Linked DNA regions of Homo sapiens: regions 2, 3, 4 and 5 are each linked to region 1. The links come from fine-mapping of genetic effects on gene expression. A gene starts in region 1. Each other region holds a variant in brackets. All regions are shown on one strand. Distances are between the middles of the regions.

Region 1 (6,227 bases):
CAGCCTCCCAAGTAGCTGGGATTGCAGGTGCCCGCCACCACGCCCAGCTAATTTTTGTATTTAGTAGAGATGGGGTTTCACCATGTTGGCGAGGCTGGTCTCAAACTCCTGACCTCAGGTGATCCACTCGCCTCAGTCTCCCAAAGTGCTGGAATTACAGGCGTGAGCCACTGCGCCCGGCCCTTTTGCTTTATTTTCTACTTTTTTTTTAATTGCTTGTTGCCTAAGACAGACCAAGATTTTTTGTTTTTGTTTTCTTCTTCTTTTTTTTTTTTTTTTTTTTTTAGATAGGGTCTGGCTGTCACCCAGGCTGTAGCGTAGTAGCGCAATCTCAGCTCACTGCAAATTCTGCCTCCTGGGCTCAAACCATCTTCCCACCTCTGCCTCCCAAGTAGCTGGGACTATATGCACAGCTAATTTTTGTATTTTTTGTAGAGATGGGGTTTCACCATCTGGCCTAGGCTGGTCTTGAACTCCTGAGCTCAAGCGATCCACCCACCTTGGTCTCCCAAAGTGCTGGGATTACAGATGTGAGCCATTGTCCCAGTCTAGATTTTTTGTTTCAATACATGAACTAAAAGCTTTAAATTTCTATTATGTCAACTATCAATTTTTTCTTTTATAGATCACGATTTTAGCGTCATATCTAAGCAAACTTTGCTTAACTTAATATCAAAAGATTTTCCTCTTTTTCTTCTGAAATTTATAGTTTTAGCTTTTATATTTAGGTCTATGATCCACTTAAATCAATTTTTATGTGTGATGTGAGGTAAGAATCAAAGTTCTTTTTTTTCCCTCCCACATCATTCATTGAAAAGATTACCCTTTCCCCATGGATTGTTTTAGCACCATTGTTGAAAATCAACTGACCATAATGTAAAGGTTTATTTGTGGACTATTTGATTCCATTGATCGATATATCTGCCTCTATGCCAGTATTACAGTCTTCATTACTGTAGCTTTATAATAAGTTTTGAATTCAGGTAGTGGAAGTTCTCCATCTTTTTCTGTTTCGAAATCCTTTTATTCTGGTTCCTTTTCATTTCATATAAATTTTAGGGCCAAACTTGCCAATTTTTTTTTTTTTTTTTTGAGACAGAGTCTTGCTCTCACCAGGCTGGAGTGCAGTGGCACGATCTCTGTCACTGCAACCTCTGCTTCCCGGGTTCAAGCGATTCTCCTGCCTCAGCTTCCTGAGTGGCTGGGATTACAGGCGCGTGCCAACACGCCCAGCTAATTTTTGTATTTTTAGTAGAGACGGGGTTTTGCCATGTTGGTCAGCCTTGTCTTGAACTCCTGATCTCAGGTGATTTGCCCTCCTTGGCCTCCCCAAGTGCTGGGATTACAGGCGTGAGCCACCGCGCCCGGAATAATGTTCTTTCTTTAAAAATACAAATTAGCAATCCCCTTAATTCCACAAAGAGGAAAAGTAAAAGAACACAGAAATGCTTGAGTTCAATTTGCTGAGACCAATAAAATGCACTTTCAAGAAAACTGCACAGCACTAGCATTGGAGGCCACAAAAATAAGATACGGACTCTATACTCAAGGAATTTATGAACAAATAAATTTTTCTGCTGGCTGAGGTACTTCTCTGACTGTTAAAGCAGGTAAAACGAAGAAATGTTCCTCCGAGACTTCCTACCTATTCTAACCTCTCAAACTTCTAATTGCAACAATGGCAGCTTTATTTTTATCTTAATATTTATGTGTTGAGGGTTCCATATAAGATTAGATTTGAATAAAGCACTGTATGCCTTTAAAAAGGTTTGAAAATCACTGGTCTAATAAAAGAACAGTGAAAACTGACAGGCAGCTATATTATAAAAAGAATACTGGATTGAGGGTTCATGATGACTGTTTTATTCTAGTTGTTGAACATGTACAGCCATGTCGAAGGAAAAGTTCTATTTCTCACCTCTCATAAAGGATGGCATTTTAAAGGTGAATTTTAATGTCATTCATCTAATAAATATTTGTTGCATGCAATAAGCACAATGTTATTCATATATTCATAGTAAAGTAATAGGGAGAAAGGAAGTACGGAATATCCTGAGGATATCAGCTGTCATCAGAGATGTAACAAGCTGGGTCTCAGAGCACAAGTTTGCCAATTGATTAAAAAGGAAAAAAAATGAGGCATCGTAGATAGAATCATAGGTCCAGAAGAACAGAATTAGAAATAGCTACCACTGAATGAACATTTCCTCCATGCATAGACTTTTATCCTCACCACACCTATGGAGATAGAAGTTATTATCCCCATGCAGACAGGGGTATGCCAAAATCACAAAACTCGTGAGTGGCAGCGCCACGTTTGAAACTGGGGTTGTCTGATTTCAAAGCCAAGGCTCTGGGTTCACAGAAGTACATGTACTTAAGAGGTGTGAAGCAACATGGGACTACTGGAAGGAGGCGGTGAGCCACGAGGCTGGAAATGCAGGCACCTGCTCTCGCTCACTTGACCATAGAGCAACTTGGGCAAAGAAGGGGTGGGCTGACATTGGAGTATGGAACAAACGCATGATTTCAAATAAGCATGTGTGTATCCATCCCAGTTCTGTCCGCTGAAAAGGCCTAGAAGCAATAACACACCAAGCCCTGTCGAATGGTGGGGTCCGCCAGGACCTCCAGGCTTGCTCCCCGCCCTACCCGCCAGCTTCTCCGCCACATTCCACTGCCGCAGCAGAACCGGTGTCCTTCACCTGCCTGCGTCTTCTGCAGTTCGTTAAGCAGCGCCCTTAGCTCCTGTGACACTTTAGGGAGAAAGCCGCAGCACCGGCGATGTTGGCCGCCATTAACGCCCGGCAAAGCGCCCGGAACTAGAAGCAGCGAAGAACCCGGGTGGGCAGCGACCGTGACAGCCGAGCCGGAAGCGGAGCTGCGGGAGGGGCCTCGACGCTCCTCCATCTTTTATTGGAGCTCACCGCTGCCAGTCGCGCTGCCTGCCCGTCCCACCCTTTTCGTGCAGGCATTCAGCTAAATGACGGGCGGAGCCCGGCGGCGGCTTCCGGTCGGGGGAAAAAAGTTGGGCCGAAGGAGGGGCCGGGAAGACGCAAGAGGAAGAAGAGAAAACGGCCGGGCGGCGGTGGCTGTAGGTTGTGCGGCTGCAGCGGCTCTTCCCTGGGCGGACGATGGACAGCCAGGGCAGGAAGGTGGTGGTGTGCGACAACGGCACCGGGGTAAGGGCCGCGCGAGGAGGCCTTGGCGGCCACAGACGCCGGCGGGGACGAGCAGCTGGCGCACGGGCCCTCGGCCCCCAGGGCTGCACCTCCGGGCCCTCGGGGCGAAGGGGCGCGGGGCGGTGCCTCCCACCTCCGCGGGCGTGGGAGCGAGCCGGCCGTTCCCTGGTCTCCCTTGAGCCTGCCACCCATTTAGCCTGCCACCCCCTCACCCTTCCGGGTGGGGGCGGCGGGCGAGACCGGCACTGGACATGGAGCCTACTGACCGCCCGGCAGGGACCTGCTCCGCGCTAATGCGGGGGCAATTGGGCTAAAGCGGACGGAAGCGTAAAAGGCTCGGTTTGTGTGTTCCGAGAAGGGCTCTTTTCCCCAGGGCCACCGGTTTGTAAAAAGGAGAAAGACCTAGAGGCCTTCCTCTTCCTGTATAGTTGAAGATACACCAAACGAGAAGCAGGAAGCGGGTTTACTTAAAAAAAAAAAAAAAAAAAGGGAAGTGCTGTCATGGAGTGTGGACCTCAGCCCTTTCGCTGTGTTTGTTGGGCTTTTTATTAGTTTTTTCGAGGGAAGGGGTCCAGATCGGCAGCGCATCGTTCACTTTTTGTTTTACATACTAGTATTTGGCCCAGGAGTAGGCCCACGGAGACCAGCATGTTCCATTGAGTGGTTTTGGGTGACCTAGGATCCCGCAAGACTCAAGTGTTAATTCCACTAGCCTTAGGGGAAGTTAATTAGTGTTGATTATCCCACCCCCAGCCCCCTTTTTTCCCTTCGTTTCAGTATACAGGTAATGTTAGCCTTTAAGATTCAAAAATTGTAAAATCTGACTAAAGCACTGATTTAGAAACTATTTGAAAATTGTTTCTGTAATCCCAGCACTTTGGGAGGCCCAGGCGGGCAGATCACCAGAGGTTAGGAGTTCGAGACCAGCCCAGCCAACGTGGTGAAACCCCGGTCTCTACTAAAAATACAAAAATTAGCCGGCCGTGGTGGTGCTTGCCTGTAATCCCAGCTACTTGGGAGGCTGAGGCAGGAGAATCCCTTGAAGCCAGGAAGCGGAGGTTGCAGTGAGCCGAGATTGCGCCACTGCACTCCAGCCTGGGCGACAAGAGTGAAACTCCGTCTCAATTATAAAAAAAAAAAATTGTTTCATTCAGACCTCCCTCTTGCCAGATTAAAAAAAAATGTATTTTGGGTAGCAAAGTCAGCAAATTAGAAGATGGAAATATTATTTATTCTGGATGACTTCTATAGTGATTTCTAACCATTTTGATGTTGCAACATTTTGTGAGTTTTCTCCCCTCCCTCCCATAAATATGATGTATGAATTAAAGTTCATTTTACTTGAACAAAACACTTTGGAATCTGAATTGTTGAGGGGGAAAAGAGCTGGTATTTACTGCCATAATACTGCCCTTGATTAGATTTGTTACACAATTTTACAAGCAATAATTATGGTAGCTTCATCTGAACTGTGTTAAAAATGGACTAGAGTAAAAAGAGTGTTAACGTACATTGAGGCCAGGCGCGGTGGCTCATGCCTGTAATCCCAGCACTTTGGGAGGTCTAGGCGGGCGGATCACCTGAAGTCAGGAGTTTGAGACCAGGCTGGCCAACATAGTGAAACCCCGTCTCTACTAAAAATACAAAAATTAGCCGGGCATGGTGGTGGGCGTCTGTAATCCCAGCTACTCGGTAGGCTGAGGCAGGAGAATCGCTTGAACCCGGTAGGCGGAGGTTGCAGTGAGCCGAGATCGCACCACTCCAGCCTGGGCGACAGAGCAAGACTCCGTCTCAAAAAAAAAAAAAAAAAAAAAGAAAAACAAAACATATTAATGTGACGGTTTTTAAGAATGTAATATTTTTAAAAAGGCAGATCCACTGCTATGGAAACGTCTAAGATTTTAAGTTGAAAAAGGTTTTAGAATGATTCAGTTTAAGTGTGTGTTCCTTATTAAAGATGTATGTCCACAAACTTGTATCCGCATATGAAAGTTTTGGAGGGATACATAAGAAATGTTCATAATGGTTACCTATGAGACAGAGGATAAGGGAGTGAGGGAAGATGGAGAGGACTTCATGACCTTTCTGAATTATTGGAAAAATGTTCTTTATTTGAACAAAGCAAGTATTATTAAACTATATTTAAACTAAATTAACCATAAACGCATGTTACATGTGCGGCTAAAATTCAGTTAAATGTGCTTTTTAAAAAAGTATTAGCCTGATTTCCACTATAGTTTCAAATTGGCCTCTAAATAAATAAAAAACTTTAAAAATTGAATTTAAAATTTTTTGTTTTGTGATTGTGTCAGATACTCTTTTTAGAAAGTCAAGCCAGTTATATTTTAATGAATTCTTTTAGGGGTTCAAGGTAATGAGCCCTGTATTTGTAGTATATATGAGTTTTTAAATATTAAATTAGAATGGGAATGTTAACCGAAGCTGATTTTTTTTTTTTTTTTTTTTTTTTTGGACACAGGATCTAGCTCTGTTGCCCAGGCTGGAGAGCGATGGCGTGATCTCGGCTCTCTGCAACCTCTGCCTCCTGGGCTCAAGCGGTTCTCCTGCTTCAGCCTCCCGAGTAGCTGGGACTACAGGCTTGTGCCACCACACCCAGTTAATTTTTTTATTTTTGTAGAGACTGGGTCTCCCTATGTTACCCAGGCTGGTCTTGAACTCCTGGGGTTAAAAGATCTGCCCACTGCGGCCTCCTAAAGTGCTAGGATTACAGGCTTGAGCCACTGCACCCTGCTGTCAGAAGCTAATGTTATGTTACTATTCCATTAGTTAGCTAACATTAGAAGGCTGATTTTAGGCTGGGCGTTGTGGCTCATGCCTGTAATCCCAGCACTTTGGGAGGCCGAGGTAGGAGGTTCACTTGAGGTCAGGAGTTTGAGACCAGCATGGCCATCATGGTGAAACCCCGTGTCTACTAAAAATACAAAAATTAGCCGGGTGTGGTTTCTGATGCCTGAAATCCCAGCTACTTGGGAGGCTGAGGCAGGAGAATTACTTGTACCTGGGAGGCAGAGGTTGCAGTGAGCC
Region 2 (6,227 bases), 61 kb after region 1:
ATCATAGCTCACTGCAGCCCTGAATTCCTGGCCTCAGGCAATCCTCCTGCCTCAGCCTCTCAAGTTGTTGGGACTCAGGTAACACCACTGCACCCCAACTTTGTACTTTTAAAGTTACTTTAAACTCCAAAATTGAGGACAGTGGTTTGTTGATCTCTTACTATTGTTTCTAGTGCCATGAAGGGACATCAAAGATAAGCGAATCATACAATGTAACCTATGGCAGGAGGCATGAGAAACAAGATATGCAACAGAGGGCCTCTTTGGAAATGGCAGGAGCAGGGGCTGGAGGCAGCAACAAAAGTGTCATCTTGAAAGGCGTCTTCATGTGCAGCTTGAGAGTCAGCTGTGAGGAAAATAGCCAAGGAGACACAGACTATGAGACTGCCCGTGCCCTAGAGCTCTTTGCAAAATCAAGGTCTCAGGGCTTCACCCCATCCCCTGACCAAAAGCAAGGGATGTGAGGCAGAATCTGCCTTGCTGCCGATTCACTGTGTGTCCCTGGGAAAACCACCAATCTTCTCTAAGTCTCCATTTTCTCATCTGTAAAATGAGGGGTTTTGACCAGATCTGTAGTTCTCCATCTGGGCTGTGCATTAGAATCATTAGGGAAATTTTTTGAAACATTCTAATTCCTGGACCCATCCCCAGACCACTTGAATCAGAACACAGGTATCAGAATTTTTCAAAAATTCCCCCAGAGGATTCTGATCTTAACCAAATGTGAGAACCACAGACCTAAATAATCTTAAATAACCTTGCTAGATTTAAGTTTCTATGAATCCATGAATGGAATATTCTGAGGAACTGAGTTTTCTGATGAACTTAGAATTCACCACCAGAAATTCCTTTTTGTTTCTATTCCTATTTTTGAAAACTCTTCTAAAGTGAAAAAGTTTAAATAATCTTGAAGGTCCTTCCTACCTTAAAGTTTCTATGACTACATGAGAAGGATATTCAGAGGAGCTAAGTTTTCTGATGAATTTAGTATTTACTAATTTGCCACCAAAAATTCCTTTTCATTTTTATTTCTATTTTTGAAATCTTTCCTAATGTGTAAAATTCCAACCTCCTGTCTAGGGAAGCAGGGACAATAAATTCATAACATGGGGGCCACCACATGCTCTCTTCCCTTGACAGGGCAGACATTACTAATTGATGAAGACACTGACCTCCAACTTGCCATAAAAATCCATCTCACCTCTAGGCAGCCATGACCAATCAGTCAAAGCTGACACTGGAAATGAAACCGATTTGCCATTTTGGGTTTGGTAAATTTAGCTCAGTATTTCTTTCATAATGGGGTATCTTTCAGGGCCTCAAAGGCAAGATTCCAAACAACCCTTCCTCCACTCCATCCTCTCCAAATACACCGGGCTGTAGGACAGGTGGTATGGGGACTGTGCTGAATGTATACTGAGTTCAGATAAACTTTGGGTATAAATAAAATTTTTATAAAATATGTTTTGCTACCATTTACATCTTTTCCTTAAATTTAATCCAAAGAAGCCAGTTCTGGGGAAGCAATATGGCAAGTAGAGTAGGAGCGTGGGTTCAAATCCTGATTCTGCCGCTCACTATTTGGCCCATTTTGGACAACTTCCCTAAATTCTCCTCTCTGTCTTCTCGCCTCAGTCTTCTCATCTATAAAATGGGGGCTAATAATAGTATCTACCTCATAGGGTTATTGTGAGATTTGAATGAAATAATAGACCCAACACCCAGGGTCTGACACGCAGGGAACTCAACAAACCTTACCTATTTTGCTTGCTAATACCATACATTGAGGACTTCATTAAGTGATTTATGGCAAATCAAAATTGCATAGAAGTTAGAAGTAGTAGAAATAATAGTAGAGGAGATAATAGAAATACCTATATTGTGCCCCATTTGCCATCCCTTGGGAGGGAACGAGTCTGCATCCGCTCAAAGAGTCTGTGTCCACCCAAAGTGAGCGCCTTGGCAATGTGGTCTTGGGGGGCAGCCTCCACATCTGGGGTGTGGTCACGTAAGCTTGAAGCACTTAGCAAGAGCTGTGGTGGCCCAAAGGGGGTGTTTTGAAAATTGGCAGGTGTGCTTTTTTTGTTGACTCTGCCGTTGGCATTTGGGGATGGGGAGGAAGCTAGATGTCCTGCAATGTGTCGGAGAGTCCCAGACAACAAAGAACTCTCATGCCCCACATGACTTTCAGATGTTCCCCTAGCCTAAACTCACTACAAATGTAAATCATCAATAATTAGAACACAATGATCCTGAAAATAACTTGAAAGGAGTTACTTGAAAAGCCCAGTAATTTAGAAGACCATTCCATAGAGAGAAACTTTTTTTTTTTGAGATGGACTCTCATTCTGTCGCCCAGGCTGGAGTGCAGTGGCGTGATCCCAGCTCATTTCAACCTCTGCCTCCCAGGTTCAAACGATTCTCCTGCCTCAGCCTCCCTAGTAGCTGGGATTACATACAGGCCTGCACCACCACACCCAGCTAATTTTATATTTTTAGTAGAGACGAGGTTTCACCATGTTGGCCAGGCTGGTCTCGAACTCCTGACCTCAAGTGATCCACCCCCTTCAGCCTCCCAAAGAGCTGGGATTACAGGCGCGGGCCGCTGCGCCTGGCCTATAGAGAGAAACTTAAATGGAAGAAACGTCTTGCCCCGAAATGATTAATTTACTCATACTGTGCTGGTTGCTTGCTCTATGTATTGAGCATTTCTGATTATAAATTTTACTGAAAAGAATTTCAGTACAGTAGGGAGTTTACTGTACAATGAAACCAACTGAAAATAAGAAACAGATTTGAGATTTATTTAAACAAATCTTGAGCCAAATATAAAAGAGCAGACTCATGAAATGCAAGGATGTCATAGGTTTTTTTTTTTTTTTTTTTTGTCTTTTTTTGAGGCAAGGTTTCACTCCGTCACTGAGGGCAGTGGCTGGAGTGCAGTGGCACGATCTCAGCTCACTGCAACCTCCACCTCCTGGGCTCAAGCAATTCTCCTGCCTCAGTCTCCTGAGTAGCTGGGATTAACAGGTTCATGCCACTGTGCCCGGTTAATTTTTT[T/G]TTTGTTTGTTTGTTTTTTTTGTGGAAATGGGGCTTTGCCATGTTAGCCAGGCTGGTCTCAAACTCCTGAGCTGTGGTGATGCGCCCACCTTGGACTCTCCCAAAGTGCTTGGATTGCAGGTGTGAACCACGGCGCCTGGCCTGAGATGTTTTGACACAGGCGTGCAATGTGAAATAAGCACATCATAGAGAATGGGGTATCCATCCCTTCAAGCATTCATCCTTTGAGTTACAAACAATCCAGTTACACTCTTTAAGTTATTTTAAAATGTACAATTAATTTATTATTGACTGTGGGCTGGGCACGGTGGCTCACGCCTATAATCCCAGCATTTTGGGAGGCCGAGGTGGGTGGATCACTTGAGGTCAGGAGTTCGAGACCCGCCTGGCCAACACGGTAAAACCCTGTCTCTACTAAAAATACAAAAAATCACCTGGGTGTGGTGGTGGACGCCTGTAGTCGCAGCTACTAGGGAGGCTGAGGCAGGAGAATCACTTGAACGCTTGAGTCCGGGAGGCAGAGGTTGCAGTGAGCCGAGATTGCATCACTGCACTCTAGCCTGGGCAACAGAGCGAGACTCTGTCTCAAAAAAGAAAAGAAAAAAGAATTACTATTGACTATGATGTGGCCTCTTTCAAATCCATCCTCACTGTCCTTTGTTTCTCACAGGATGCAGCCCCCAAGTTCATTTTAAGTGCTAGAGACTCTCTCCAAAACATACCCTTATCCCAGGTCATAAAATCGAGGAACCACAGTGATGCTGTATTTTGTAAATAAGCCCCAGATCATTCATGACTTTGAGTCTGTAGCTTGTTTTAGTATATTACAGATTGAGTATCCCTTTTCTGAAATGCCTGGGATGAGAAATGTTTCAGAGTTTCTGAATTTTGGGATATTAGCATGTATATAATAAGATATTTTGGGGAATGCGACCCAAGTCTAAACACGAAATGCATTTATGTTTCACATACACCTTATATAGATAGGCTGAAGGTAATTTTATATAATATTTTACATAATTTTGTCCATGAAAAACAACATTTTGACTGTGTTTTGACTGTGACCCATCACATGAGGTCAGGTGTGGAATTTCCCATGGTGGCATCATGTCAGCACTCAAAAAGATTCAGATTTTGGAGCATTTTGGGTTTTGGATTTTCAGACTAGGGATGCTCAACCTGTATCTCTATTTTAAATAACGTTATTTTATTCTTTCTTTTATATACAGATAAGTGTTCTCTATTATTACTTAGCCTAACACTAATTTTTATTTTTTATTCTAATGTCCATTCATACCTCTGCTTTTTTTTTTTTTTTTTTTTTGAGACAGAGTCTCACTCTGTCGCCCAGGCTGGAGTGTAGTGGCGTGATCTCGGCTCACTGCAACCTCTGCCTCCCGGATTCAAGCCTCCCAAAGTGCTGGGATTACAGGCGTGAGCCACCACGCCCGGTATGTTCTTTTATTTTTTTGTTCTTCTTATGAAAATAGCTTCTGATCTTCTTATTTCCCTTAAATCCAAACCCATTCATTATCAGTAGGTGCAGGCATCTGGTGGCTTCAGTGTGTCCTGCTGTGCAGCCACACCTGAGCATTTATATTTTAAAGTACATGTTATTTTATTACACATTTTTAAAAATCTATCCTTTATGTTAAAGAAGTGATTCTCAGCTGGGGGTATTTTGTCCCACCTTGCCCTGGGACATTCACTTTTCGTTGCCAGAACTGGGGGTGAGGTGCTTCTTGAATCTAGTGGGGAGAGGCCTGGGATGCTGCTGAACATCCCACAATGCACAGGACAGCCCCCTCACAAGAGTAAAGTGGCCCAAAATGTCAATAGTGTTGAGGTTGAGAAACCCTGTGTTAGAGTTAGGGTATTACAACTAATTTTAAAAATGTGTGGCCCGGCACAGTGGCTCACCCCTGTAATCCTAGCACTTTGGGAGGCTGAGGCAGGCGGATCACGTGAGGTTGGGAGTTTGAGACCAGCCTGACCAACATGGAGAAACACCATCTCTACTAAAAATACAAAATTAGCTGGGCATGGTGGCACATGCCTGTAATCCCAGCTACTCAGGAGGCTGAGGCAATAGAATTGCTTGAACCCAGGAGGCGGAAGTTCCGGTGAGCCGAGATCGCCCCACTGCACTCCAGTCTGGGCAGCAAGATTGAAACTCCGTCTCAAAAAAAAAAAAAAATGTGTTTAGAGAGGTTATGTAATCCATGAATTTCATCTGGGATGTTAAAGGGAGTTTACAAAATATTTATTATAAAAAGTTATAAACCACTGGCATAAATCAAAATAAGAGGAAGTAGTCTGGGTAGACTTTGGATTCCTCACTTTCACCACAGCCCTTGAACTCATGTAAAGAGAAAATAACTTTGGAAAAGTGTTCTGTCCTTTCATCTCACATGAAAGCCAGAGGTCAAATGTGAAACTCCAGTGTTTCTGAACCGCAGAGCGTCCATCTTTCCAGCTGTGTTTCTCCAATGTCTTCCACCAAGCGGCCTCATTTCAGGTAATATTTGCTCTCTCCTCCCAGTCTGATGATGACTGTTTAGGGAATACCCAAGAGAGTCTAAATTGCTCACAGGATTTGGTAGAAACCACTCCCGTTTCAGTCACCAGCCGGCCCTGGGTCTTTATCACAATTGCTATCCTAGAGGAACACAGCTGCACGAAGGCACCAAGGGCTTCCTCCTTATGCCACAAATATCCTAAGAAGAATGTCTCAGAATTATTTCAAGGTGTGGCACTTAGTGCGGCCAGCATGTGGGAGAAGTGAGTTTGTATACTGTACCACTGAACACATGCCTTCTCAAGATGCATGAGGAGGCCTTCATTATAAGTGGCGTTAAACAAATGGAATGGAAAATTCCAGAGGTTGCAAAACAAAATAGGGGTGAGCAGAGATACTGTCTTCTGATGCAGTATTTAGACCCAAGTTCCGCCATTTATCATGCTGTGTGGCTTTGGGCAGAACCTTATCCTCTCTGTGCCTAGATGGATGTCCTGTTCCGTGAAAAGGGGATCGTGAGGTATGAAGTGACTAGCAGGTGTCAGCACACAAGTTGTGCTGCTAGTTTCTTTGGGTTAATAAATCCACTTGAGGCTGTACTGTATCTCAGCAGGATGGGCCCCGCCCATGTCAGACCTGGAGCTTGCTT
Region 3 (6,227 bases), 45 kb after region 1:
GCAGGTTTTCTTCTACTTGTGCTCTGCCTGGAGCTGTTTCCATATGATATAAAAAGCAAGTGTAGTATTCCATTACTATGTGGCTTAGGGATTTATTTGTTTTTTAAAATCAACCATGTTAGCTGGGATTAGACTCCCTACAGTCCTTCAATGGAAAAGTAACATTTAAAAATCCTTTGGGTAATTCGAATTACAGATTTAAAAGAGCTTAAGATCTGGTGTTTTGTTAATGCTTCTGTTTATTCCAGAAGCATTAAGGTAACCCATTGCCAAGTATCATTCTTGCAAATTATTCTTTTATATAACTGACCAGTGCTTAATAAAACAAGCAGGTACTTACAAATAATTACTGGCAGTAGGTTATAATTGGTGGTTTAAAAATAACATTGGAATACAGGACTTGTTGCCAATTGGGTAATTTTCATTAGTTGTTTTGTTTGTTTTGATTTGAAACCTGGAAATACAGTAAAATTTGACTGTTTAAAATGTTGGCCAAAAAAATCAAGATTTAATTTTTTTATTTGTACTGAAAAACTAATCATAACTGTTAATTCTCAGCCATCTTTGAAGCTTGAAAGAAGAGTCTTTGGTATTTTGTAAACGTTAGCAGACTTTCCTGCCAGTGTCAGAAAATCCTATTTATGAATCCTGTCGGTATTCCTTGGTATCTGAAAAAAATACCAAATAGTACCATACATGAGTTATTTCTAAGTTTGAAAAATAAAAAGAAATTGCATCACACTAATTACAAAATACAAGTTCTGGAAAAAATATTTTTCTTCATTTTAAAACTTTTTTTTAACTAATAATAGCTTTGAAAGAAGAGGCTTAATTTGGGGGTGGTAACTAAAATCAAAAGAAATGATTGACTTGAGGGTCTCTGTTTGGTAAGAATACATCATTAGCTTAAATAAGCAGCAGAAGGTTAGTTTTAATTATGTAGCTTCTGTTAATATTAAGTGTTTTTTGTCTGTTTTACCTCAATTTGAACAGATAAGTTTGCCTGCATGCTGGACATGCCTCAGAACCCTGAATAGCCCGTACTAGATCTTGGGAACATGGATCTTAGAGTCACTTTGGAATAAGTTCTTATATAAATACCCCCAGCCTTTTGAGAACGGGGCTTGTTAAAGGACGCGTATGTAGGGCCCGTACCTACTGGCAGTTGGGTTCAGGGAAATGGGATTGACTTGGCCTTCAGGCTCCTTTGGTCATAATTTTAAAATATGGGAGTAGAAAACAACAAAGAATGGAATGGACTCTTAAAACAATGAAAGAGCATTTATCGTTTGTCCCTTGAATGTAGAATTTGTTTTTGATTTCATAATTCTGCTGGTAAATGTGACAGTTAAAATGGTGCATTATGTATATATATTATAATTTAGAAATACCATTTTATAATTTTACTATTCCAGGGTGACATAATGCATTTAAATTTGGGATTTGGGTGGAGTATTATGTTTAACTGGAGTTGTCAAGTATGAGTCCCTCAGGAAAAAAAAAAAATTCTGTTTTAAAAAGCAATCTGATTCTTAGCTCTTGAAACTATTGCTACTTAAATTTCCAATAATTAAAAATTTAAAATTTTTAAATTAGAATTGCCAATACTTCTACATTTGAGAAGGGTTTTTTTAGAAATACATTTAGTAAAGTCCCCAAGACATTAGTCTTACATTTAAACTTTTTTCTTTAAAACATGGTTTTGGTGGTTAACTTTTACACAGTTCTGAGTACTGTTAATATCTGGAAAGTATCTTGAGATATCAGTGGAAAGCTAAACAGTCTAAATTAACATGAAATACTTCATTTTGATTGAGAAAATAAAATCAGATTTTTTCAAAGTCAATTTGAATTTTGTCATTTCTTTCTAATAGTTATTTCTTGTTTCATTTTCTTGTTAATGCAAGATGAATTGACAGTTTATGCTAGTTGTTAGGTCAAGTTCATGTCAGTGTTCTATTATTGACAAAACAACTCATTATTTCTGGTATGATTTTATAAATACATAAGAAAATAGAATAGCGATTTATAGCTACATCAGAGGCTGTTTTCTTCCAACAAACTGTTTTGTCTCCCAAAAGATTTAAGGTGGCTTTCACAGAATTAGAAATGCTAAAGAGACCTGTATGTAACATGCCCCCTTTCAAGGACATATTAGCTCATCTGCAGACTTTTAGGCATATTATTTTTAACAAATAAAAGAAGGATGAAAATACATTTAACTGACCTTTTCTTGTTTTATACTAGCCTTGAGGATGAGGGCTGGAGAGTAGAGAGAGTATTTTTGCCTTTCCTTCTTCGTGGACTTGTATGTGCAAACCTCATTGCCCGCTTCAGGGCCGGAGTCCCAGACAGCGAACGTAAGGGTTGTCTCTGGTGTTTTATCTAGTTTCTTCTGAGTTGCGGAAGAAGAATATGATAACAGCTATCTCCATATGTAATGGAGGAAGAAAATACCAGGCACTGCATAGTGCCTTTGATGGAATGAATGTCTCTCAGTGCACTTCATTTTTTTCCTCCACCCACAAACTTTGACCATTATACAATTGAGTGAGTTTATTAACTGTATTAATTTTAGAACCATCAAAGAGGGTAGCCAACTAAAGTGAACCAGAAACTCGAGGATTAATCTAAACTCGATTTTTTCTTTCTTTTGAGACGGAGTTTCACTCTTGTTGCCCAGCTGGAGTGCAATGGAGCGATCTTGGCTCACCGCAGCCTCCACCTCCCGGGTTCAAGCGATTCTCCTGCCTCAGCCTCCCAAGTAACTGGGATTACAGGCATGCGCCACCACGCCCGGCTAATTTTGTATTTTTAGTAGAGAGGGTTTCTCCATGTTGGTCAGGCTGGTCTCGAACTCCCGACCTCAGATGATCCACCCGCCTCAGCCTCCCAAAGTGCTAGGATTACAGGCGT[G/A]AGCCACCGCGGCCGGCTAAGCTCAATATTTAACATGCTCTCTAACCTTGGACTAATTGGCCAACTACACACAATACTGGGATACTTTTTTCCTCTGGCTCAAAAATCTCTGACCTCTTTGAAGATTGAAAAATGCTACATCAGAGGTAAGTGGAGGAGGTAAGGGGACGTACCTGGGAAAGCATGTTTGCATGTGTGAATAACTAAAAGGCTAAAATTAGTGACTTTAACCATTATATTGAAAGTAACTTTTAGTCATAGAATAGAAATAAACTTGATTTAGAGGAGGTGAAAATAGGCAGCTATTACAAAAATTTCAAGTGATGTTCACATTAATATAACATTTTAAAAACATTCTAAAGCATCTTTCTTTGTATTGTTTAACATCTGAAATTAGGAAGAAAGAAGCTATTGAACCATAGTTACTTTTGTTTAAATTATCTAGACTGGCAGTGACAAAAAGTCTTGTTGCCTATTATAAGTGTCTCAGTTTGCGTTATCTGCAGATGTAAAATATCTGAGTAGGGGGAATTCAAATGATTTATCTCTTCCTTTTGGCAGAATGGAGTTCCTGTCTCTTTCATATCTACCCCCTCAACTCCTCCCACCCACCAGAGGAAAAAAGGAAAGACTGGAAAAGACTTGGCATATAATTTTCCATGAAACATTTGACGTAGGAATAGAAGAATTAGAGAATGTTGAGTAGATTTTCATGGACCAGTTGAAAGGTTTGGGTTTGGCAAGTGCAGAAAGCAATCACAAAGGTATTACAGAGTGATTCTTATGCCCAGGGTAGCCTTTAAGAACTGTACCCTTTGCCATTCACAGCAAGTGGAGCTTTTGCCTGATGAATGCTTTAAAAAATCGGTAAAAAGAAAACTCCAGTGAGTAAAATATTTGTTCTTCCTTAAATATGGGTTTGAAAAAGGGCCTCAACTCTCAAGGATAAGGATTTTTAAAATTATACTTTTTGTGCATAAAAGTGTAATTACGACCGGGCACGGTGGCTCAGGCCTGTAATCTCACCACTTTGGGAGGCTGAGGGGGGCCAGTAACCTGAGGTCGGAGTTCGAGACCAGCCTGACCGACATGCAGAAACCCCGTCTCTATTAAAAAATACAAGATTAGCCAGGTGTGGTGGCACAAGTCCGTAATCCCAGCTACTTGGGAAGCTGAGGCAGGAGAATCGCTTGAACCCGGGAGGCAGAGGTTGTGGTGAGCCGAAATTGTGCCATTGCACTGCAGCCTGGGCAACAAGAGTGAAACTCCATCTCAAAAAACAGAAAATGTAATCATAAAAATGTGAATGCAAATGCATTAATATCAAAGGAGGTTTTAAGAAATTAGGGAAATTCTAAAAGTCTGCCACAATATTAATTGGATCATTTTAAATGAGTATGTTTATGTGAGTGCCTTGATGTTCTGTAGGGGTTGAGATTTTTTTCGAGGTGTCTGTGCACAAGAAAATTAAGCGATCTATTTTACTTTAGAAAACCAAATCTTGCTGGGCATTGTGTAATCCCAACAATTTGGGAGGTCGAGGCAGGCGGATCACTTGAGGTCAGGAGTTTGAGACCAGCCTGGCCAACATAGCAAAACCTGTCTCCACTAAAAATACAAAAAATTAGGTGTGGTGGCGCATACCTGTAATCCCAGCTACTCAGGAGGCTGAGGCAGGAGAATTGCTTAAACCCAGGAGACAGAGGCTGCAGTGAGCCAACATCATGCCACTGCACTCCAGCCTGGGCAACAGAGCGAGACTCCATCTCAATAATAATAATATATAAAAATCTAAGGGTTTCCTGAGTTGTTAATTCTTATATTTTCATATTTTCTTATGTTTACATGTATATATTCTTATATTTTTATATTTTGTGACAACTTAGTGTTTGAAGAGTAAGAAATTTGGGCCTAAATGAGGCTCAGTTGTTAAATTGATAATACACATTTGACCCCTTTATTGGAAACCTACAATTTACCTCCAGATGTGTTTTTTTTTTCCCTGCTAACTTAGATCTACATTTGAAAGCTTCTGGCATTAATTAATTTTTATTTAAGAGCTATTAGGAAGGAGTGGAACCTAAACTATGGTGACAATTTAAAGGACCTTGATTCAAAGAATCAATTAAGGAGGCTGTCCTCTTTGTTTTGCTTTTACTTAGTAGTTTAGGTGGAATTCAAGCAGATAATATTCAACCTCTAAGTTCCCTGCTTACACAACTTGGAATTCTAAAGGAGTCTCTAAAATGAAAACATCCCACAGGAAGTGATGTAGCTAAAGTATGATTATCTGTATTTTTAAAACAAATTACTTGTCCTTCAAATGTCTTTTTCAGTATGGGGTCAGAATCACATGTTCCTTTTGTTAAAAATGCAGGCTCTTAGGCGGGGCGCGGTGGCTCACGCCTGTAATCCCAGCACTTTGGGAGGCCAAGGCAGTGGGGGATCACCTGAGGTCAGGAGTTCGAGACCAGCCTGATCAACACGACAAAACCCTGTCTCTACTAAAAGTACAAACCGGGCATGGTGGCGGTCGCCTGTAATTCCAACTATTCCTACTCAGGAGGCTGAGGCAGGAGAATGGCTTGAACCCAGGAGGTGGAGGTTACAGTGAGCTGGGATCAGCCACTGCACTCCAGCCTGGGTGACAGAGCGAGACTCCATCTTAAAAAAAAAAAAAAAAAAAAAAAAGCAGGCTTCCTTGAGCCCCACTCTGGACCACCGAATGGAGCCTGAGGGTTTGCTTGTTTTCCAACTCTTCCCCCACAACTCTCATACTCCTGTTTTAGGGGCTAAGAGGACAGTCAGGCTTCAAAGTATGAACCACTCTCCTGGGCCCACACCTGCAATGCCCTTCTTTCCTCCTCTTCCTGGGGAAAACTAGGGCTTTTAGCAGATGGGTTCAGAAGTGACACAGGAAGCAGCCCTGGGAAGCCGGAACCACTTAGAGACCATCTTTTGCCAGTGTGCTGACCTCTGCTCCACCTCCCCCAAATGGATCTTCAGTTCAAATGGATGATAAACACCTTTTCATTAAAAAGGCCAGTTCTGGGATGGTTAAAGCACCATCAGTCATTTACACATCCATTTGTATTAAAAGGAAATCCAGAGACTCACACTGACGCCTAGGGGAGATTAGCAGCTCTTTGTGATGTAAGTGAAAGGAAGGTCTGTAACTTTGGCCTAAGGAGTGCATTGGAGAAAATTGGTAGGTTCCTGAGGAAATTCAGTTTTTAGAGCAAGCTCACTTTTTAGGGCAAGCTCACCTTGGTAGATGAGAGTTGAGTGCTGGAAGTGGTAAAATAACCAAA
Region 4 (6,227 bases), 33 kb after region 1:
CTCCATATCCTCTCCAGCATCTGTTGTTTCCTGACTTTTTAAGGATCGCCATTCTAACTGGCATGAGATTTTGTGGTTTTGATTTGTATTTCTCTAATGACCAGCGATGATGAGCTTTTTTTCTTATGTTTATTGGCCACATAAATGTCTTCTTTTGAAAAGTGTCTGTTCGTATCCTTTGCCCACTTTTTCATGGGGTTATTTGTCTTTTTCTGGTAAATTTGTTTAAGTTCCTTGTAGATTCTGGTTATTAAGGCTTTGTCAGATGGATAGATTGCAAAAATTTTTTCCCATTCTGTAGGTTGCCTGTTCACTCTGATGATAGTTTCTTTTGCTATGCAAGAAGCTCTTTAGTTTAATTAGAACCCATTTGTCAATTTTGGCTTTTGTTGCAATTGCTTTTGGTGTTTTAGTCATGAAGTCTTTGCCCATGCCTATGTCCTGAATGGTATTGGCTAGGTTTTCTTCTAGGAGTAAACCCATTTTGTAACTTAATCATCTCCAGATTTGCTCTGGAGATTCCTTCCTGAAGTCTTCTTGACAGTTTCTCTAGTTGTCTGATTTTCCATCTACCTGACTATTTTGGAAGAAAGTGGCTGGCACAGGGCAAAAGATAAGCAAACTAGGAATGTAAAACATGTTTTATTTCTTCCTTCTCTCTTTTCTCAAAGAATTTGAGGTAGGCTACAAAAATATATACAAATAGGCTGGGTGTAGTGGCTCACACCGGTAATCCCAGCACTTTGGGAGGCTGAGATACGAGGATCACTTGAGGCCAGGAGTTCATGGCCAGCCTGGGCAATATAATGAGACCCTGTCTCTACAAAAAAAATACAAAAATTTGCCAGGCGTAGTGGCACGTGCCTGTAGTCCTAGCTAGTTGAGAGGTTGAGGTGGGAAGATTGCTTGAGCCCAGGAGTTCAAGGCTCAAGTTTTGAGGCAGAGAGCTAGGATTGCACCACTGCACTCCAGCCTGGGTGAAGGAGCGAGACCCTGTCTCAAAAACAAAACAAAATCCATATATATATTTGATATATATATGCACACACACACATATACACAAGTATAAAGTAATAAGCTGATGAATAAGTGAGGAGGGACATGGGTGGACAAATACAGAACAGGATAAGATTTGGTGCAAAGAAATGGGATGCCTGCAGTTTTAACAGTTCATTAAGGTGATTAGAAAACTTGACCCCATGCTGGCCAGCAGCCAGAGAATGGAGAGAAGCCACACTATCAGGCTTCAAGTGCTTAAGGCAGGAGGTTTTGCTAATAAGATCTGCTGTGTGAAGTTTTTCCAGATATTTTGGGTGATTTCATGTGAACCCACCTGAAGGTGGAGGTGGTTTTTTTAAGGGTATAAGTTTTGGTAACCTTTTTTTTTTCTTTCTGTTTTGAGACAGGGTTTCCTCACTCTGTTGCTCAGGCTGCAGTGCAGTGGCATGATCTCGGCTCACTTCAGTCTCAATCTCCCAGGGTTAGGTGATCCTCCCACCTCAGCCTCCTAGGTAGCTGGGACCAAAGCTGGAATCTAAACAATCATTGTAATTGGCCAGGCGCGGTGGCTCTTCCCCATAATCCCAGCAATTTGGGAGGCCAAGATGGGAGGATCATTTGAGCCCAGGAGTTCAAGACCAGTCTGAGTAACAAAGCAAGACCCCCGTCTCTACAAAAAATAAAATTAGCCAGCCATAGTAGTGTGCATCTGTAGTGCCAGCTACTTGGGAGGCTGAGGTGGGAGAATCCCTTGAATCTGGGAGATTGAGGCTGCAGTGAGCCATGATCACACCACTGCCCTCTAGCCTGGACAACAGATGAAGACCCTATCTCAAAAAAAATATATATGTATTGTAGGGCCAGGCATGGTGGCTCATGCCTGTAATCCCAGCACTTTTGGGAGGCCAAGCCAGGCAGATCACTTGAGGCCAGGAGCTCGAGACCAGCCCAGCCAACATGCAGAAACTCTGTCTCTACTAAAAATACAAAAATTAGCCAGGCGTGGTGGCACATGCCTGTAATCTCAGCTACTTGGGGGGCTGAGGTATGAGAATCATTTGAACCCAGTAGGCAGAGGTTGCACTGAGCCACGATCAAGCCACTACACTCCAGCCTGGGCAACAGAGCGAGACTCTGTCTCAAAAAAAAATTAAATTATAAATGTACTGTTAGACTTGTTAATGTAAAATTAATTCTGGTATCTCA[T/C]GGAAATGTGTCAAATGCTAGCATACATGGGCGTGCTTATTACTTAGGACAATCCAGTGAATTGTGAGGTGTTATGAGAGGAAGTTTCTACTTAACACTTCTCATTTAATTAAATATGAACATGATGTGTGACTGACAAGATTTTTTTGTACAAAGTCATAATATGATACCTGATTTGTTTAAATCTTATTTGCTTAAATTGAAATTATATTTATCAGTTACTTAAAATGTATTAGGACCTAGTAGGATACAACAGAATTGCCTAATAAAAATAGTCTAGACCAGTGTTCTGTAAACTTTTTTGATCATAAGACATTTTTTGGATTAAATGATTTGATAGAAGTGGTACACATGTTATAAAGTATTTTGGCAAAATAATAGTTTCACAGAGTAATTATTTGATGAAATAAAATTATTTAAAATGTTTAATGTGGCTAGGCGCAGTGGTTCATGCTTGTAATCCCAACACTTTGGGAGGTTGAGGCGAGCAGATCACCTGAGGCCAGGAGTTCAAGACCGCCTGGTCAACATGATGAAACCCCGTCTTTACTAAAAATACAAAAATATGCTGGCGTGGTGGCACATGCCTGTAATCCGAGCTACTCAGGAGGCTGAGGCAGGAGAATTGCTTGAACCTAGGAGACAGAGGTTGCAGTGAGCCGAGATCGTGCCATTGCACTCCAGCCTGGGCGACAAGAGAAACTCTGTCTCAATCAATCAGTCAATCAGTGTTTTAACATGTCTGTTCTACATAGCAGAAATATCCATAAAATCACAAATATGTTAAAATTATAAAACTGTAGTAACACATACCAGCAATAATCAAAATACAATGGTTGGTCAGTGATGCTTGTTTCTGCTTTGCTGCAAACATCATGCACTCATGCATCAGTGATTTCTCCAAGAAATTCCTGATATTTGGGGGCGTGGCATACCTTTTTTTTTTTTTTTTTTGAGATGGAGTCTCGCTCTATTGCCCCTGCTGGAGTGCAGTGGCGTGATCTTGGCTCACTGCAAGCTCTGCCTCCCGGGTTCACGCCATTCTCCTGCCTCAGCCTCCCCGAGTAGCTGGGACTATAGGCGCCCGCCACCACACCCGGCTAATTTTTTGTATTTTTAGTAGAGACAGGGTTTCATTGTGTTAGTCAGGATGGTCTCAATCTCCTGACCTTGTGATCCGCCCAGCTCAGCCTCCCAAAGTGCTGGGATTACAGACGTGAGCCACCACGCCCAGCCTGGCATAACATTTTTAAAAGCAAAACAGAATGTGATAAGAGCAGTTACCTAAATCTATTTAATTTACCTTTTTTTCCCCAAATATATTTTAGGAAAAATTGTTGTTGGTAATGATTTTGGTTACAGAACAGATGTATTTATAAGTACTAGTGTTCCGGAGAACACTGGGAAATTTTAATCTTTTGCTGATTAGTACCTGATTATTCTTGGTTTCTAGCTCCCAGATGGACGTATCATCAAAGTTGGGGGAGAGAGATTTGAAGCACCAGAAGCTTTATTTCAGCCTCACTTGATCAATGTTGAAGGAGTTGGTGTTGCTGAATTGCTTTTTAACACAATTCAGGCAGCTGACATTGATACCAGGTACATTAGAAGTGGTGATTTCAAAGTTATTTATCAGAAAAATCATAAAAATAGTTTTAAAGTTATTTATCAGAAATAGATGGAATTAAATAGAATGACTAAGTTTATAAACTTACTTGAAATAATTTCAGACTTACGGAAAGGTTGCAAGAAAAATGCAGAAAACTTATCTGTATCCTTTATCTGGATTTACCATTTTACTAATTCTAATGTTCTTCATGTTTGCTTTTTCATTCTGTTTTTTCTGAACCGTTTGAGGGTAGATTAAATGCATCAGTTCTTTACTAGTTGGTGTTTCCTAAGGATAAAGATACTCTCTTACATAGTCATGCTGATTTCAGATCCTTTGGAGATACACCCAGTAGTGGAATTGCTGGATCATATGGTAGTTCTATTTTTAACTTTCCGAGGAACCTCCATACTGTTTTCTGTAATAGCTGTACTAATTCACACTCCCACCAGCAGTGTACAAGGGTTTCCTTTTCTCCACATCCTCGCCAGTATTCGTTACCTTTCCTCTTTTTGATAATAGCCATTCCAACAGATGTGAAGTGATATCTCATTGTGGTTTAATTTGCATTTATTTCCCTGATGATTAGGGATGCTTAGCATTTTTTCCATTTGTATGTCTTTTGAGAAATGTCTATTCAGGTCCTTTGCCCATTTATTAATTGGGTTATTTGCTTTCTTGCTATTGAGTCATTTGAGATTTGAGTTCCTTACATATTTTGGATATTAACCACTTATCAGATGTCTGATTTGCAAATATATTCTCACATTCTATAGGTTATATCTTCACTTTGTTGATTAATTCCTTTGCTGTGCAGAAACTTCTTTTGTTGTTGTTTGTTTTTTGAGACGGAATGTCACTCTCTCACCCAGGCTGAAGTGTAGTGGTGCAATCTTGGCTCACTGCAACCTCTGCCTCCCGTTTTCAAGCGATTCTCCTGCCTCAGCCTCCCAAGTAGCTGAGATTACAGGCATGTACCACCATGCCCAGAATTTTTTTTTTTTTTTTTGTATTTTTTAGTAGAGATGGGGTTTTGCCGTATTGACCAGGCTGGTCTCGAACTCCTGGCCTCAAGTGATCCACCCCACCTCAGCCTACCAAAGTGCTGAGAGAAACTTCTTAGTTTGATGTAAATGCATGTATATTTTTGTTAGATATTGCCAAATTTCCCTCTCTGGCAATTGTATCGTTTATCCTTTTCCACCGATCTGATGAGTGAGAAATTATTTCAGTGTAATTTTACTTTTTATTTCTGTCATTAAGAGTGAAGTCAAACCAGGGGTGGTGGCTTCTGGCTGTAATCGCAGCACTTTGGAGGCTGAGGTGGGAGGTTTGCTTAAGCCTAGGAGTTTAAGACCAGCCTGGGCAACATATGGAGATCCTGTCTTTACATAAATTTTTTTCAAAAAGATTAGCCAGGTATGGTGGTGGTGTACTCCTGTAGTCCTAGCTACTCAGAAGGCTGAAGTGGGAGGATTGCTTGAGCTTGAGAGGTAGAGGCTGCAGTGAGCCATGATTGTGTCACTGCACTCCAGCCTGGGTGACAGAGTGAGACCCTGTCTCTCCCCACCGCCACAAAAGAAAGTTCCTAAAAAAAAAACATATATATATATATAAAACATATTTTTATATGTTTAAGGGACTTGTTTGTTTGTTTGAGATAGAGTCTCGCTCTGTCGCCAGGCTGGAGTGCAGTGGTGCAGTCTCGGCTCACTGCAACCTGGGTGGAGTGATTCTCCTGCCTCAGCCTCCCAAGTAGCTGGAATTGCAGACGTGAGCCACCACGCCCAGCCTTAAGGGACATTTTAAATTTTTTTTTTTGGCAAATTGTTAATGGCTTTTTGTAGATTTTGGAGTTTTGGGTTTTTTTTTTTTTCAGTTTTGAAAAGTTTTCTTTTAGCTTTCTGATATCTTTCACAGATACTCTCTCTGTTTGCCATTTGTCTATTGCTCTTAGTGTTTTGGCCATGCAAAAGTTTGTTTTTATTTAGTCATATAAAAAGATTTATAGTCTTATTACATCTAGAGCTTGAGTCATAGTTAGAAATCCCTTCTCTACACTCAGGTTATAGAGGAATTCACCCAGAAGCATTTTGTACAGCAAGCATTTATTTGTGTAACCCTGAGTTAAATAGCCACCTAATTAATTTTGATGGGATGGCTTTGGAGCCAGGATAGTAATAGAAATTAATAAAAATAGCAATTGACTCATAACAAGCTATAAACCTGGTAGAAGATGATCAGAAATCGAATCTAGCCTTCATAATTATGGTAAATTCTCATGATAGGGATTAGGGAGATGATTTTGTTCTTTGATGTTCATTCACAGCAAAATTGTATTTAAAAGTACATGCCAGCTGGGCGCGGTGGCTCACGCCTGTAATCCCAGCACTTTGGGAGGCTGAGGCCGGTG
Region 5 (6,227 bases), 68 kb after region 1:
AATCCCACCACCCAGAGTTAGCCACCAACACCCTCACCTCCATGCGTTTTCTTTCCTTGTGCAGATATGCATGGACATGTCTACAGTGTGTATGCCCTTAGTTTACGAAGCTGGATACTGCACAGTATACCGCTCAGGAAACTGCTTATCTCCTTTCAGATGCAGATCAGCTATTTTTTTTCTTTTTTAGAGACAGGGTCCTTGCTATAGTGCCCAGGCTGGTTTTGAACTCCTAGGCTGAAGCAGTGCTCCCACCTCAGCCTCCCAAAGTGTGGGATTACAGGCAGTAGCCACCAGCCCACCCTGCATCAGCTATTTAAATGGCTCCCAGCTGCGGCTGTGGAGTTCAGCAGGGGCTGCTGTCAGGCAGGGAGAAGGGGGAGTTTCCAGGATAATTCTCTCTCCTAGAGGCAGCGCTGGGCTCCTGGAAGGAGGAGAACCTCCAAACCAGGCCTCAGGAGGCAGGTGGGAGGATAGGCGGGCGGCAAGCGACATCCAGAAGGAAAAGCTGGGCCTGGTGAGACAAGTGTTGGGGGGCTGAAGAAAAGAGAGACTGAAGGGAGCCATTTCAGGTCTGGGGGGGGCCAGGGGGTAGCAGAATGTAGAAAAGGGTATGCTTTGGGGTTCCTCTAAAAGATGGGAGGAGCTGGCAAGCCCTGGCCTTAAGGAAAGGAAAAGTCCCATCTCTGGGTTCTTTAGCTAACAAAAGCCACTGACCCCTGTAGCTTCCCCATGCCTGTTCAGAAGGTGCTTCAGCCAGTAAAAAGGCAAAAAAGCAGCGTTTTCCCAAATGTGTCCCTGGAAAGACAAATCCCATAAAAGGATTCACCAGAAAAAAGGCTTAAAAAAAAGTTTGAGAAATGAGATGTACAGTCATTTCATCTCAGAGAATCGCAACACACAGAAACTTACCTGCAGCCCTGAGAAGTAAGAGATCCGCAGAACCTGGGTTTCCCAAGTTTATTTTCTCGGGTAGCTCTCACTGCCTAAGGAATTTCCCTTGTGCTCCCGCCCAGTGATGTTGGAGAAGACACCGCAGAGCCACTGGGCTGGGCATCTCCCTCAACAAGGCAGCCTCCTTAAGATCACAGGAAAGCCCCAGGCCTCACGGCAGGTTTACACCCTGTGTGCCCCGGCAGCCCTGTGAAAGGGCAGAAGTCAGTGATCCCAAGGTCTCTTCCAGCTCCAGCACTCTATCCTGTTTCTGCAGCTCATGCCCAATCAAATCTCACTTCAGGGGAATATCCATGGAGTGTGGTGGCCTGGGGCAGTTGTATTTGCTGGATAAATTCACTTATTTAATTCAACAAATATTTCTTGAATCCTTACTATGTGCCAGATACTGTTCTAGGCATTGGGGATTCCAAAGTCAGTAAAATAAAATCTGGGGGAAACAGACTACAGACAAATGTAATAACTATATCATGTATATGTCAGCTAAGGACTTTGGAGAGAAATAAAGTATGGTAAACAAAAAGTGTGGGGTGGCAAGGCTGAGAGAGGGATACTCTGTTAGATAAAGTGATCCGGGAAGGCTTTTCTAAAGAGGTGACTTGTGAGCAGAGACTAGCAGGAAGTGAGGGATAAAGCCATGCGGAGATCCCAGGGCTGAGCGTTCAGGCAGAAGAAACAGCAAGGGCAAACATTCTGAGGCAGGAACAAGGAGGCACACGAGGGGAACATTGTGGCTCAAGGGAATAAAAGAGGGGGAGCGTGTTAGGAGATGAGGTCAGAGAGTGAGTGGGGGCCAGATCTCCTAGGACTGGAAGGCCAAGATAAGAACTTCGGATATTTATTCAGAGATGAGAAGCCAGTGGAGGGGTTGAGGAGGGGCATAATGTGAGGTACAAGGAAGAATTTCTGCTTTCTAATAGGGATAAACAGTTTTCTAAATAGGGAGAGCCTACCCTCTGCCTTGGAACTTATGAAAAGAAGTTGAATTTTCATTTGATGGTTGAAGATCTTGCAAGGCCTTGGTACTGGTCATCCATCGTTGTACAGACACTTACTCAGTACTCCAAGCTCCCACCTGCCATGGTGGCAAGGAATTTGATCTCAGTCATATTTCAAGAGGCAGGTCTTCTTTTCACCCATGGCTACACGTGAGTCCAGCAACTTACAGGTGCCTGGGAAGGGAAGGGTCTCTGGTCTCCAGTCCATCATGGATAATGCAACTTTATGTTCATGGTCCAAGTCCATTGGTCTTTTCAAAGGCAAGCAGCTCTATCCTCCATAACCAACAGGGCTTCCAAGATCCTTCCCTTGGGTCCAGGACCATAGCTCTAAGAACTCAGTCTCCTGGTATCTACTCACCACCCACTGGCAGTCGGGCATTGGTGGATGCTGCATGCATGAGTAAGGCACCGTCACCTTTCCTCAAGCCTCTTATAATCTTTGGTCCAACAGACAAGTACACCAGCGTTTATGGTTGGGGAGGCTGGGCTCTGCTGGGGCAGTGGGATAGAACATAGTGCTGTTTTCCCTATGAGAAATAAGCCAAAGTAGGATACACAACTCCATGTCTTAAGTGTTTTTATTATTTATTTATTTATTTATTATTATTATTATTATTTTTTTATTTTATTTTTTTTTGAGACAGAGTCTCGCTCTGTTCCCAGGCTGGAGTGCAGTGGTGCGATCTCGGCTCA[C/G]TGCAAGCTCCGCCTCCCAGGTTTACGCCATTCTCCTGACTCAGCCTCCCAAGTAGCTGGGACTACAGGCGCCCGCCACCACGCCCAGCTAATTTTGTTTTTGTATTTTTAGTACTGATGGGGTTTCACCGTGTTAGCCAGGATGGTCTTGATCTCCTGATCTTGTGATCCACCCACCTCAGCCTCCCAAAATGCTGGGATTACAGGCGTGAGCCACTGCGCCCGGTCCTATTTTTTATTTTTTGAGATGGAATCTCACTCTGTCATCTCGGCTTACTGCAACCTCCATTTCCCAGGCTCAAGTGGTCCTCCTGCCTCAGCCTCTCAAGTAGCTGGGACTACAGACATGTGCTACCATGCCTGGCTAATTTTTTTTGTATTTTTGGTAGACACGGGGTTTCACCATATTGCTCAGGCTGGTCTCGAACCCCTGACCTCAAGTGATTCGCCTTCCTTAGCCTCCCAAAGTGCTGGGATTACAGGTGTCAGCCACCGTACCCGGCCTTAAGATTTTTTTAGAAAGATAACTTGAAACTCTGGGTGATGGGAATCAGGCAGGGGCAGGTTCCGACTGAGCCCTGAAACCTCACCTGGACCCTCCACTCCGCCTGGGAGGAAGACCCAGGTCACCTTAGTCAGGAAGCAGGAATGCCGCAATGACCTGCCGCAGTGGAGATTTGTCCTCTTCTGTGTACAACATTTTTCAGTAAAGGGTACGGTGTCAGCTGGCAGCATTGCTGCAGCACTAATGAAGTTTAGGAAGTGCTTAGCTGAAAAGGGCATGGGTGGGGTAATTGAATTGGTGTCAGACACATAATGGCTTTGAGAGTCTTTTCTCCCTCATTTGATAAGAAGAGCCCTTTCCCTCACATCCTCCGTAAAAGCTCAAGGAGAAAAGGATGTTCACCCAGCTATACATCAATCCTGTCTATTGACTACGAGTTTTGGGAAATCATATGGAGAAGCATACTTTTTACGAAGGCTTTGGGGACTGTTAATAGCAGGCTGGGCAAAGCACAGGAAGAGGCTACGAATGAGTGTTTTCCACAGGACGCTGCCAGGTGATAAAATATTAAAACCATTACCAACACTCCCACTTCAAGGAATGGTCTTAATGATTCTGTCAGATATCTGGGTCCTGTGGTCAAATGGACAGTGAGCTTTTTGGGCCTCATCAAAAAATAGCTTACTGGGTGCCAGGTCCTGTGCTAAACGCTTACACGTTGTCTCCTTTCATCTTCACAACAACCCAAGAGGGAGGAGCTATTGTTATCCCCATTTCACATATGCAAAAACTGAGGCTTGCCCAAAACCACACAGTTCTGATGTGGCAAAGCTTGGCTTGAAATCTAAGATTGGGATTCCAAAGCCAATGCTTTCCTTCTTTACTTCCCTGATTAAAAAACGTAAAGGTGGCCTGGCGCGGTGGCTCATGCCTGTAACCCCAACACTTTGGGATGCGGAGGCAGGCGGATCACCTGTGGTCAGGAGATCAAGACCAGCCTGGCCAACATGGTGAAACCCTGTCTCTACTAAAAATACAAAAAAATTAGCTGGCCATGGTGGCGGGTGCCTATAATCCCAGCTACTTGGGAGGCTGAGGCAGGAGGATCGCTTGAACCCAGGAGGTGGAGTTTGAAGTGAGCTGAGACCATGCCATTACACTCCAGTCTGGGCAACAAGAAAGAAACTCCATCTCAAATAAATAAGTAAATAAATAAATAAATAACCTAAAGGAAAACAGACTACATCCATATACGGTTAAAAAGAAAAGTACAAGAGCTTACAATAAAAATTAACTCTCTGTCCCACCAGACCCAAGTCCAGAGGCAACTACCGTTACTGCTTCCTTGTTTACCTTCCGACTACAGAGAATACACACACAGATGTGTACACGATTGTGTCTACGTGTATATATATAAAATGGGTGTGCACTATCCACACTGTCTGCACCTTGCTTTTGGCACTTAACATTTCTCGGAAGACTTTAGCAAAACCTAACAAAGACAGCTGCCTGATTTTAATATGGCTGAATAATGGTTCGTCGTATAGATATAGAGGCGCTTAACCAGTCTGCTCCTTAGGGACATTTAGGATGTCTACATTTTTGCCATCAGCAATAATGCCGCAATGCGCATCTTCAGGGAAATGCCCCTGCACACGTGTGTGAGCAACGCTGTGCTTTTAATAACAAGAGCAAGATGATATCCCAGGACAGGTGGGTTCACTGTCCAGGTCACTAGCTCAGAGATTGCACTTGTAGCATCGCAAAGGCATTGAGGGTGGCACCAAGAAGGCCATGCAGGCCCTCGGCTTTGGGATATTCCATACGAACGACCCTCCAGGTTTGACAGATACAGACCTGGGCACCCCAGGGACATTTCTGAATGTAAACAAGAATATGGATAGCAGGGCTTCCTCTTTCCAGCCGCCATTTCATCACAGCACCCTTAGGGCAGCCAGGAACTGTAAAGGTTGTCTGTGAAGACTGCTGCCTGGGCAGATGGGGACCTTCATGCCTAGATCACCAAAGGAGGCATGGATCAAAGTCCAGAGAGTTGAAGTAGCTTGCCCAAGGTCACATAGAAGGTGGGGAGGACCTTGGCTCTAGCAGGCCTGCTCAACAGAGGTTTGTCTCGTCTCTGGTTGTTACTAAGGCTCAAGAAGATCTTGATGCCCTCTCTAGGCCCAGGGGAGTGGGTACAGTACCAATGAGTGATGCCTCCCCTGCTGGTAGCAGGCAGTGGTTAGTGTCCTTGTCACGATTTCTTTTTCTTTTTCTTTCTTTTTTTTTTTTTTTTTTAAGACGGAGTCTCACTCTGTCGCCCAGGCTGGAGTGCAGCGGCGCAATCTCAGCTCACTGCAAGCTCCGCTTCCCGGGTTCACGCCATTCTCCTGCCTCAGCCTCCTGAGTAGCTGGGACTACAGGCGCCCGCCACCGCGCCTGGCTAATTTTTTTTTTTTTTTTTTTGTATTTTTATTAGAGACGAGGTTTCACCGTGGTCTCAATCTCCTGACCTCGTGATCCGCCCGCCTTGGCCTCCCAAAGTGCTGGGATTACAGGCGTGAGCCACTGCGCCCAGCTTCTTTTTCTTTTTTTGAGAAGGAGTTTTTGTCTGTCGCCCAAGCTGGAGTGCAGTGGCATGATCTCAGCTCACCGCCACCTCCACCTCTTGGGTTCAAGCGATTCTCCTGCCTCAGCTTCTTGAGTAGCTGGGATTACAGGCGTCTGCCACCATGCCTGGCTAATTTTTGTATTTTTAGTAGAGATGGGGTTTCACCATGTTGGCCAGGCTGGTCTCAAACTCCTAACCTCAAATGGTCTGCCTGCCTTGGCCTCCCAAAGTGCTGGGATTACAGGCGTGAGCCACTGTAACCGGCCTCGTCACTATTTTATAAATTCCCACTATTTTTTTTATTAGTCAGGATAGTATATGGTGGTAACAAACAAACCTGAAATTGTACTGGCCTATTACCAAATTTATTTTTCACTTACTCATTCACCCCCGACTCAGGGAACTCCCCTGTCAGCTGTCCTCCCTATGGTGACTCAGTGACCCAATCTGCTTTCATCTTGTG

Which allele goes with the higher level. Positions count from the first base shown, and alleles are read on the strand shown. Sizes are in standard deviations (SD) of each study's normalised expression. Not every link is listed here.
As copies of T replace G in region 2, the expression in memory regulatory T cells of the gene that starts at base 3,056 in region 1 goes up (moderate effect, 0.54 SD a copy in Schmiedel 2018).
With allele C in place of T in region 4, the expression in hippocampus of the gene that starts at base 3,056 in region 1 is higher (small effect, 0.22 SD a copy in GTEx).
For the expression in putamen of the gene that starts at base 3,056 in region 1, G is the low allele of the variant in region 5 and C is the other (small effect, 0.18 SD a copy in GTEx).

Evidence for each region. PIP is the estimated chance that this variant, and not a neighbour inherited with it, causes the effect.
Region 2: its variant is the best candidate, but not a certain one, in a credible set for the expression of ACTR2 in memory regulatory T cells (Schmiedel 2018, PIP 0.66).
Region 3: its variant is the best candidate, but not a certain one, in a credible set for the expression of ACTR2 in whole blood (INTERVAL, PIP 0.81).
Region 4: its variant is the best candidate, but not a certain one, in a credible set for the expression of ACTR2 in hippocampus (GTEx, PIP 0.50).
Region 5: its variant is the best candidate, but not a certain one, in a credible set for the expression of ACTR2 in putamen (GTEx, PIP 0.53).

Annotation. Positions count from the first base shown.
Region 1 is chr2:65,224,776-65,231,002 of GRCh38, forward strand. ACTR2 (actin related protein 2) reads left to right here and starts at 3,056. Exons shown (of 9, transcript NM_005722.4): 1 at 3,056-3,182. The coding sequence starts at 3,135. LOC124907779 (a long non-coding RNA gene) reads right to left here and starts at 2,824. Exons shown (of 2, transcript XR_007086461.1): 1 at 2,706-2,824. RefSeq lists enhancers at 2,047-2,936, 2,937-3,825, 3,898-3,987 and a silencer at 3,208-3,397.
Region 2 is chr2:65,285,950-65,292,176 of GRCh38, forward strand. It overlaps LOC124907781 (a long non-coding RNA gene), which reads right to left. Exons shown (of 2, transcript XR_007086472.1): 2 at 5,302-6,227. Among named protein-coding and RNA genes, the nearest start is that of ACTR2, 61 kb to the left of the region's middle. The variant T/G (reference allele first, on the strand shown) is at 3,061.
Region 3 is chr2:65,269,408-65,275,634 of GRCh38, forward strand. ACTR2 (actin related protein 2) reads left to right here. Exons shown (of 9, transcript NM_005722.4): 9 at 1-1,846. Among named protein-coding and RNA genes, the nearest start is that of ACTR2, 45 kb to the left of the region's middle. RefSeq lists an enhancer at 5,686-6,227. The variant G/A (reference allele first, on the strand shown) is at 2,917.
Region 4 is chr2:65,257,589-65,263,815 of GRCh38, forward strand. ACTR2 (actin related protein 2) reads left to right here. Exons shown (of 9, transcript NM_005722.4): 7 at 3,659-3,804. Among named protein-coding and RNA genes, the nearest start is that of ACTR2, 33 kb to the left of the region's middle. The variant T/C (reference allele first, on the strand shown) is at 2,206.
Region 5 is chr2:65,293,220-65,299,446 of GRCh38, forward strand. It overlaps LOC124907781 (a long non-coding RNA gene), which reads right to left and starts at 2,564. Exons shown (of 2, transcript XR_007086472.1): 1 at 1-2,564. RefSeq lists a silencer at 2,571-2,753. The variant C/G (reference allele first, on the strand shown) is at 2,649.